2 separate regions of the Homo sapiens genome follow, and region 2 is linked to region 1. Evidence: fine-mapped expression QTL. A gene starts in region 1. The other region holds a variant in brackets. All regions are shown on one strand. Distances are from middle to middle. Region 1 holds the start of JAK3 (Janus kinase 3). Region 2 overlaps JAK3 (Janus kinase 3).

The links.
Region 2: its variant is fine-mapped to the expression of JAK3 in whole blood (TOPMed, PIP above 0.99).

What each region holds. Positions count from the first base shown.
Region 1 is chr19:17,845,634-17,850,145 of GRCh38, reverse strand. JAK3 (Janus kinase 3) reads left to right here and starts at 2,164. Exons shown (of 24, transcript NM_000215.4): 1 at 2,164-2,200.
Region 2 is chr19:17,824,293-17,828,292 of GRCh38, reverse strand. JAK3 (Janus kinase 3) reads left to right here. Exons shown (of 24, transcript NM_000215.4): 24 at 1,383-3,511. The coding sequence ends at 1,550. Among named protein-coding and RNA genes, the nearest start is that of INSL3, 4.8 kb to the right of the region's middle. The variant C/A (reference allele first, on the strand shown) is at 1,998.

The sequences.
Region 1 (4,512 bases):
AATACTTACCAAACCATTTTGTGTTAAGACTTGTGATGGTGATACAGAGATGAAAAGTCTTTTTTTTTTTTTTTTTGAGACGGGATCTCACTCCCATTGCCCAGGCTGGAGTGCAGTGGCATGACCACAGCTAACTGCAGCCTCAACTTCCTGGGCTCAGGTGATCCTCCCACCTCAGCCTCCCCTAGTAGCTGGGACTACAGGCACATGCCACCACATCCAGCTTATTATTTTGTTGTTGTTGTATTTTTTGTAGAGACAGGGTTTCACCATGTTGCCCAGGCTGGTCTCGAACACCTGGGCTCAAGCCATCCTCCTGCCTGAGCCTCCCAAAGTGCTGAGATTACAGGTGTGAGCCACTGTTCTTGGCCACAACTTCTTAAATCTATTCCTTTTTTTTTTTTTGAGACAGAGTATTGCTCCGTCGCCCAGGCTGGAGTGCGGTGGCACAATCTCAGCTCACTACAACCTCCGCCTGCCTCCTGGGTTCCAGTGATTCTCCTGCCTCAGCCTCCCAAGTAGCTGGGATTACAGGCACATGCCACCACGCCCAGCTAATTTTTATATTTTTAGTAGAGATGGGGTTTCACCATGTTGGCCAGGCTGGTCTCGAACTCCTAGGCTCAAGCAATCTTCCCACCTGGGCCTTCCAAAGTGCTGGAATTACAGATGTGAGCCACTGTACCCGGTCACCACTTCGTCAGTCTATTCCTGAAGCTCTACTTCCGGGGCTCTGATCCTATTATCCTAAGAACACTGGCCCAAGTCTCTGCATTTGGATGCTGCCCGGGCCTTCTGCCTCTTCTATTTATAACAGCTCCTACTTCCAACTCTCCTGTGGCTCCAGATTATGCTCCAGGCAAAACCCACCCTTCTCCCAAAGACCCTGATCCCCCTGTCCCCCCACGATCTTGCCCCTGTTGACCGCCCTGCAGTCCCCTTCCCCCTCATCTCACCCCTGCCCCTGGCCTCCTGACTGCTCTTCAAGCTGCTAAGATCACTGCCCTCTCAAGGTCTTTGCCCATCCTGTGCCCTCCTCCTGGAGCACCCTTTCCCTGGCCAGCTCCCTGTCCTGCCTCGGGTCCAAGTTCCAGTCTGTGCCTGTCCTGACACCCTGGCTTTCTTTGTTGTCTGCGATGATTTGGCTCCTTCATTTGCTCATTGTCTCAGCGCCAGATCACAAGTTCCAAGAGGCCAGGCCGGATCCACCTGGTTTTTTAGGGCTGGGCCCAGGGCACCACAGGCAGAAATGGGTCATTATCTCTCCCTGAGTCTTTTCTTTTTTTTTTAAACGAAGTCCCGCTCTGTTGCCAGGCTGGAGTGCAGTGGCGCCATCTCGTCTCACTGTAACATCCGCCTCCTAGATTCAAGCAATCCTCCCACCTCAGCCTCCTGAGTAGCTAGGATTACAGGCATCACCAGGCCTGGCTAATTTTCCTGTTTTTAGTAGAGACAGGGTTTCATCATGTTGGCCAGGCTGGTCTCAAACTCCTGACTTCAAGTGATCCGCCCGCCTCAGCCTCCCAAAGTGCTGCGATTACAGGCCACCACGCCTGGCTAATTTTTGTATTTTTAGTAGAGACGGAGTTTCGCCATGTTGGCTAGGCTGGTCTCAAACTCCTGACCTCAAGTAATCGCCCGCCTCAGTCTCCCAAAGTGCTGGGATGACAGGCGTGAGCCACTGCGCCCAGCGTCTCCCTGAGTCTTAAGGGAGAAATACCTCAAAGAAGAACTTGACCTTCCTCTGGGGCAACTTCCCTGCTTCCCTCCTGGGCAAATCCAGCCAGGTTTCCTTCCCTGGGTGCAAAATTAGTTCCACTGGGTGCCCAACTCACACATGCTACAGATGGGTAAACTGAGGCAATAAGGGCCGGGCCAGAGCCCCACTTAACAAGTGGGTCTAGAGTCGGCTGAGCCCCTGGTGTGACCCAGACCCTTCTCTGTGCTATCATCAGTTCCTTTGGCTTAGGGGTCTCCAGCAGCCTGTCTGAACGGGGCGGCTGATGCAGAGGCTTCCGGAACTTTCTGCCCCTCCTTGCCCGCCTCCCCGCCCCCAGCTCCCGCAGGGCCCTGACTTTCGGTAAATGACAGTGGCTCAGGAAACCAAGGGGCCCACACAGGAAGGAGCCGAGTGGGACTTTCCTCTCGCTGCCTCCCGGCTCTGCCCGCCCTTCGAAAGTCCAGGGTCCCTGCCCGCTAGGTAAGAGCTGGCGATGCCGCAGGGCTCGGCCCAGACACTGGGGGAGGATGGTGGTGGCGGGGGATGGCTGGGCTGGGGCAGGGTGCTGCCAGGGCAAAGGCTAGCTCGCCTTCCAGGCCTCGGAGGAAAGCTGCGAGGCAGACGTGAGCCGAGACTCGCATCCTCCGATCGCTCGCTTCTCTGGGCTTCGGCTTTGACTAAGGCCGGGAGATGCCTGCCTTGCGGACCTGGAGGAGTCATTGCGCATGCGCGACGGGGGCTGCGGGGTTGGGGGTGGGGAGGAGGGATTGGGAAGGAGGGATTGGGGGGCGGAGTTCCCAGCCCCTACCCTCCAGGCCTTCCCGGTCCAGACACAGGGTACCCGACCATACCAGGATGCAGAACGTTGAGGATTATAAACAGGGGATGCCGAGGCGGGAGGATAGCTTGAGGCCAGGAGTTCAAGGCCAGCCTGGGCAACATAGCCAGACCTCCATTTCTACAAACATTTTTAAAAAACCAAAAAAACTATGGCGTTTTCTGGGACCAAACATCACCTCTGACTTTTCATTTTTTTTTGTTACAGTATTACAGAATAATAATATTCTGTTAAGATTTTTTTGTTGTTTTGGAGATGGGAGTCTTGCTATGTTGTTCAGGCAGGTCTCTAACCCCTGGCCTCAAGCTATCCTGCTGCCTCAGCCCCCTGAGTAGCTGGGATTGCAGTGGGGCGCCACTGCCACTGAAGCCTTATTTTAAACTCGACTGGGGCTGGGCACAGTGGCTCATGCCTTTAATCCCAACACTTTGGGAGGCTGAGGCCAGCGGATCACTGGAGGTCAGGAGTTCGAGATCAGCCTGGTCAACATGGTGAAACCCTATCTCTACTAAAAACACAAAAATTAGCCAGGTTTGGTGGCGGGTGCCTGTAATTCCAGCTACTCAGGAGGCTGAGGCAGGAGAATCGCTTGAACCTGGGAGGTGGAGTTTGCAGTGAGCCGAGATCATGCCACTGCACTCCAGCCTGGGAGACAGAACAAGAATCCGTCCTCCCCCCTACAAAATAAATAAATAAATAAAAAGGCTGGGCAATGTGGCTCACGTGTGTAATCACAGCACTTTGGGAGGCCAAGGCAGGCGAATCACCTGAGGCCAGGAGTTTGAGACCAGCCTGGCCAACATGGTGAAACTCCGTCTCTACTAAAAATACAAAAATTAGCTGGGCGCTGTGGTGCGCGCCTGTAATCCCAGCCACTTGGGAAGCTGAGGCATGAGAATCGCTTGAACCCAGGAGGCAGAGGCTACAGTGAGCCAAGATCGTGCGACTGCACTCCAGCCTGGGTGACAGTGCGAGACTCCGTCTCAAAAAAACAAACAAACAAACCAAAAAACTTGATTGGCTGATGTTGAGGGGACGATAGAGAGGCTATGGTGTGTGATTTTATTTCTATAAAGGGCAAAACTAGACATCAATCTCTCTGTGGGAGAGATGGGGCTCCTCCAAGGTTCCCGGGACTAGGAATGTGCTCATTCTTGGTCTGGGCATCGGTGACATCAAAGTGTCCCTTTGGTAAGGTTCTTTCCCCCACAAGACTTCCCTTCCCACAGTAACCACCACACCGCTGTGCCAATTGCCCTTCCTGTTTGGTTTAACAGGCGTTTGTTGATCGCTTACCGGCACATCATCAAGAAATATACAAATTAATGCACATTAATTGAGTTGACACTTTAGGCCTGGATTGCGCTCAGCAGACCACCTCAATGAGGATGCTGGGGAGTCAGCCCATTTCACAGCTGCGAAAGCTGAGTCCTAGGGGTCCTAGTCCTCTGATTGTCTTAAACCTCATTAGGCCAGGCGCAGTTTCTCACGCCGGTAATCCCAGCACTTTGGGAGTCCGAGGCAGGAGGATCACTCGAGGTCAGGAGTTCCAGACCAGCCTCGCCAACATGGTGAAACCCCGTCTCTACCAAAAATACAAAAATTAGCCGGGCATGGTGGCGTGCCCCTGTAATCCCAGCTACTTGGGAGGCTGAGGCAGGAGAATCACTTGAACCCAGGATGCAGAGTAAGCCGAGATTGTGCCACTGCACTCCAGCCTGGATGACAGAGCTAGACTCTGTCTCAAAACAAAAACAAAAAAACCCTCATTAATGCCGCCCCACCCCAGCCACAGGGCATTATTTTGGATCATAGTTTTTGTATTGTGTTTTTTTTCTAGAGATAAGGTCTTGCTCTGTCGCCCAGGCTGGAGTGCAGTGGTGTGATCATAGCTCAATGCAGCCTCAACTTGCAGAGCTGAAGGCATCCTCCTGTCTCAGCCTCCCAAGTAGCT
Region 2 (4,000 bases), 22 kb after region 1:
CAGAGTGACACCCTGTCTCAAAACAAAACAAAACAAAACAAAACAAAACAAAACAAAACAAAACAAAGACAAAATTATGGTAGTGATAAGTGCCTTGAAAGAGATGAACAGAGGGAAATGGTGGGGTGGGGGTGGTCAAAGAGGGCCTCTTACGGGGCCGACGCTGGAAGGAGGAGGAGCCTACCCATGAGTAAAGCTAGGAGAAGAAATTTCCAGTGGAGGACACGGAAGGGAAAAAGGCCTTGGGGAGGTAATGAGCTGGGTGCCTTTAAGCACCAGTGCGATGGAGGCAGATGTGACTGCCCGGAACAAATGAGGGAAGGAGGGATGGAGATGAGCGAAGGAGGGCATCAGGGAGAGGTGGTGTTTTTTTGTTGTTTTTTTTTTTTTGAGACGTGGTTTTGCTCTTGTTGGCCAGGCTGGAGTGCAATGGCGCAATCTCGGCTCACCACAACTTCCGCCTCCCAGGTTCAAGCAATTCTCCTGCCTTAGACTCCCGAGTAGCTGGGATTACAGGCACACGCCACCTGTAATTTTTTTTTTTTTTTTTTTTTTTTTTTTTTTTTTTTTTTTTTAGTTAAGATGGGGTTTCTCCATGTTGGTCAGGGTAGTCTCGAAAGGAGAAGTGTGTTGTAAAATCCATAAGGGCTGGGCGCGGTGGCTCACACCTGTAATCCCAGCCCTTTAGGAGGCCGAGGTGGGTGGATTACATGAGGTCAGGAGTTCAAGACCAGCCTGACCAACATGGTGAAACCCCGTCTCTACTAAAAATACAGACTTAGCCAGGTGTGGCGGTGTGTGCATGTAATCCCAGCTACTTGGGAGGCTGAGGCAGGAGAATCGCTTGAACCCAGGAGGCAGGGTTTGCAGTGAGCCGAGATCGCACCACTGCATTCCAGCCTGGGCAACAAGAGCGAAACTTTATCTCAAATAAATAAATAAGTAAGATCCATAGGGAGCCATGGGAGTTTTTGGAGCAGAGATGGGATGGAATTTAATTTGTGTTTTAAAACTGAATGAGTGCGGTGGCTCATGCCTATAATCCCAGCACTTTGGGAGGCCAAGACAGGTGGATCACCTGAGATCAGGAATTTGAGACCAACCTGGCCAACATGGTGAAACCCTGTCTCTACTCAAAATACAAAATTAGCCAGGCGTGGTGGCACGTGCCTATAATCCCAGCTACTCAGGAGGCTGAGGCAGGATAATTGCTTGAACCCGGGAGGCGGAGGTTGCAGTGAGCCGAGATCATGCCATTGCACTCCAGCCTGGACAACAGAGCTAGACTCCGTCTCAAAAAAACAAAAACAAATACGCTGAATGGGAGTTGTGTCCTTTGGACTGCTCAGGCACGACCCCATTATCTGTCCCCCGCCCCTCAGGTTCACGAGCTCATGAAGCTGTGCTGGGCCCCTAGCCCACAGGACCGGCCATCATTCAGCGCCCTGGGCCCCCAGCTGGACATGCTGTGGAGCGGAAGCCGGGGGTGTGAGACTCATGCCTTCACTGCTCACCCAGAGGGCAAACACCACTCCCTGTCCTTTTCATAGCTCCTGCCCGCAGACCTCTGGATTAGGTCTCTGTTGACTGGCTGTGTGACCTTAGGCCCGGAGCTGCCCCTCTCTGGGCCTCAGAGGCCTTATGAGGGTCCTCTACTTCAGGAACACCCCCATGACATTGCATTTGGGGGGGCTCCCGTGGCCTGTAGAATAGCCTGTGGCCTTTGCAATTTGTTAAGGTTCAAGACAGATGGGCATATGTGTCAGTGGGGCTCTCTGAGTCCTGGCCCAAAGAAGCAAGGAACCAAATTTAAGACTCTCGCATCTTCCCAACCCCTTAAGCCCTGGCCCCCTGAGTTTCCTTTTCTGTCTCTCTCTTTTTATTTTTTTTATTTTTATTTTTATTTTTGAGACAGAGCCTCGCTCTGTTACCCAGGGTGGAGTGCAGTGGTGCGATCTCGGCTCAGTGCAACCTCTGCTTCCCAGGTTCAAGCGATT[C/A]TCCTGCCTCAGCCTCCCGAGTAGCTGGGATTACAGGTGTGCACCACCACACCCGGCTAATTTTTTTTATTTTTAATAGAGATGAGGTTTCACCATGATGGCCAGGCTGATCTCGAACTCCTAACCTCAAGTGATCCTCCCACCTCAGCCTCCCAAAGTGTTGGAATAATAGGCATGAGCCACTGCACCCAGGCTTTTTTTTTTTTAAATTTATTATTATTATTTTTAAGAGACAGGATCTTGCTACGTTGCCCAGGCTGGTCTTGAACTCCTGGGCTACAGTGATCCTCCTGCCTTATCCTCCTAAATAGCTGGGACTACAGCACCTAGTTTTGAGTTTCCTGTCTTATTTCCAATGGGGACATTCATGTAGCTTTTTTTTTTTTTTTTTTTTTGAGACGGAGTCTCGCTCTGTCGCCCAGGCTGGAGTACAGTGGCGCAATCTAGGCTCACTGCAAGCTCCGCCTCCTGGGTTCACACCATTCTCTCGCCTCAGCCTCCCAAGTAGCTGGGACTACAGGCGCCCGCCACCACACCCGGCTAATTTTTTGTATTTTTAGTAGAGACGGGGTTTCACCTTGTTAGCCAGGATGGTTTCCATCTCCTGACCTCGTGATCTGCCCGTCTCGGCCTCCCAAAGTGCTGGGATTACAGGCATGAGCCACTGCGCCCGGCCCTCATGTAGCTTTAAATGTATGATCTGACTTCTGCTCCCCGATCTCTGTTTCTCTGGAGGAAGCCAAGGACAAGAGCAGTTGCTGTGGCTGGGACTCTGCCTTTTAGGGGAGCCCGTGTATCTCTTTGGGATCCTGAAAGGGGGCAGGAAAGGCTGGGGTCCCAGTCCACCCTAATGGTATCTGAGTGTCCTAGGGCTTCAGTTTTCCCACCTGTCCAATGGGACCCTTTCTGTCCTCACCCTACAAGGGGCACAAAGGGATGACACCAAACCTGGCAGGAACTTTTCACGCAATCAAGGGAAGGAAAGGCATTCCTGGCAGAGGGAACAGCATGCCAAGCGTGAGAAGGCTCAGAGTAAGGAGGTTAAGAGCCCAAGTATTGGAGCCTACAGTTTTGCCCCTTCCATGCAGTGTGACAGTGGGCAAGTTCCTTTCCCTCTCTGGGTCTCAGTTCTGTCCCCTGCAAAATGGTCAGAGCTTACCCCTTGGCTGTGCAGGGTCAACTTTCTGACTGGTGAGAGGGATTCTCATGCAGGTTAAGCTTCTGCTGCTCCTCCTCACCTGCAAAGCTTTTCTGCCACTTTTGCCTCCTTGGAAAACTCTTATCCATCTCTCAAAACTCCAGCTACCACATCCTTGCAGCCTTCCCTCATATACCCCCACTACTACTGTAGCCCTGTCCTTCCCTCCAGCCCCACTCTGGCCCTGGGGCTGGGGAAGTGTCTGTGTCCAGCTGTCTCCCCTGACCTCAGGGTTCCTTGGGGGCTGGGCTGAGGCCTCAGTACAGAGGGGGCTCTGGAAATGTTTGTTGACTGAATAAAGGAATTCAGTGGAAAAGATTTTGTGCTGGACTTGGGGCGATGGGGAGCCTCAGAGGGTGTGTGAGCTGGGAGGGATGCGGTTAGAGCTGTGGGCCAGAGACCTCTCAGGGAGCCACTGTGGGGGCCCCAGGGCAGGCTGGTGGAGGAGGACCACTGGGTGGGGCTTGGCTGGGGCCCTCAAGGACAGAGCCCCCTCACTCCCAGCCCCAGCTGCTGGCCTTGGCTGCAGCCTGGGGGAGCTGATTACAGGCTCTCTGTGGGTGGGGAAGGAACAGGATGCTCTCCCGGTGGTCAGAGGACAAGGCCAGGTTGGGGGAGCGAGGCTGTGGGGAGGGGACCAGCATCACTGGGGCCGGACCACCTCCCCACCGACCGGCCCCCGTCATGTGCACCTCATAACTGCTAGAAAGATGTGGAGAGTGGCCAGGCTCAGTGGCTCACGTCTGTAATCCCAGCACTTTAAGAGGCCAAGGCAGGAGGATCACTTGAGGTCAGGAGTATGAGA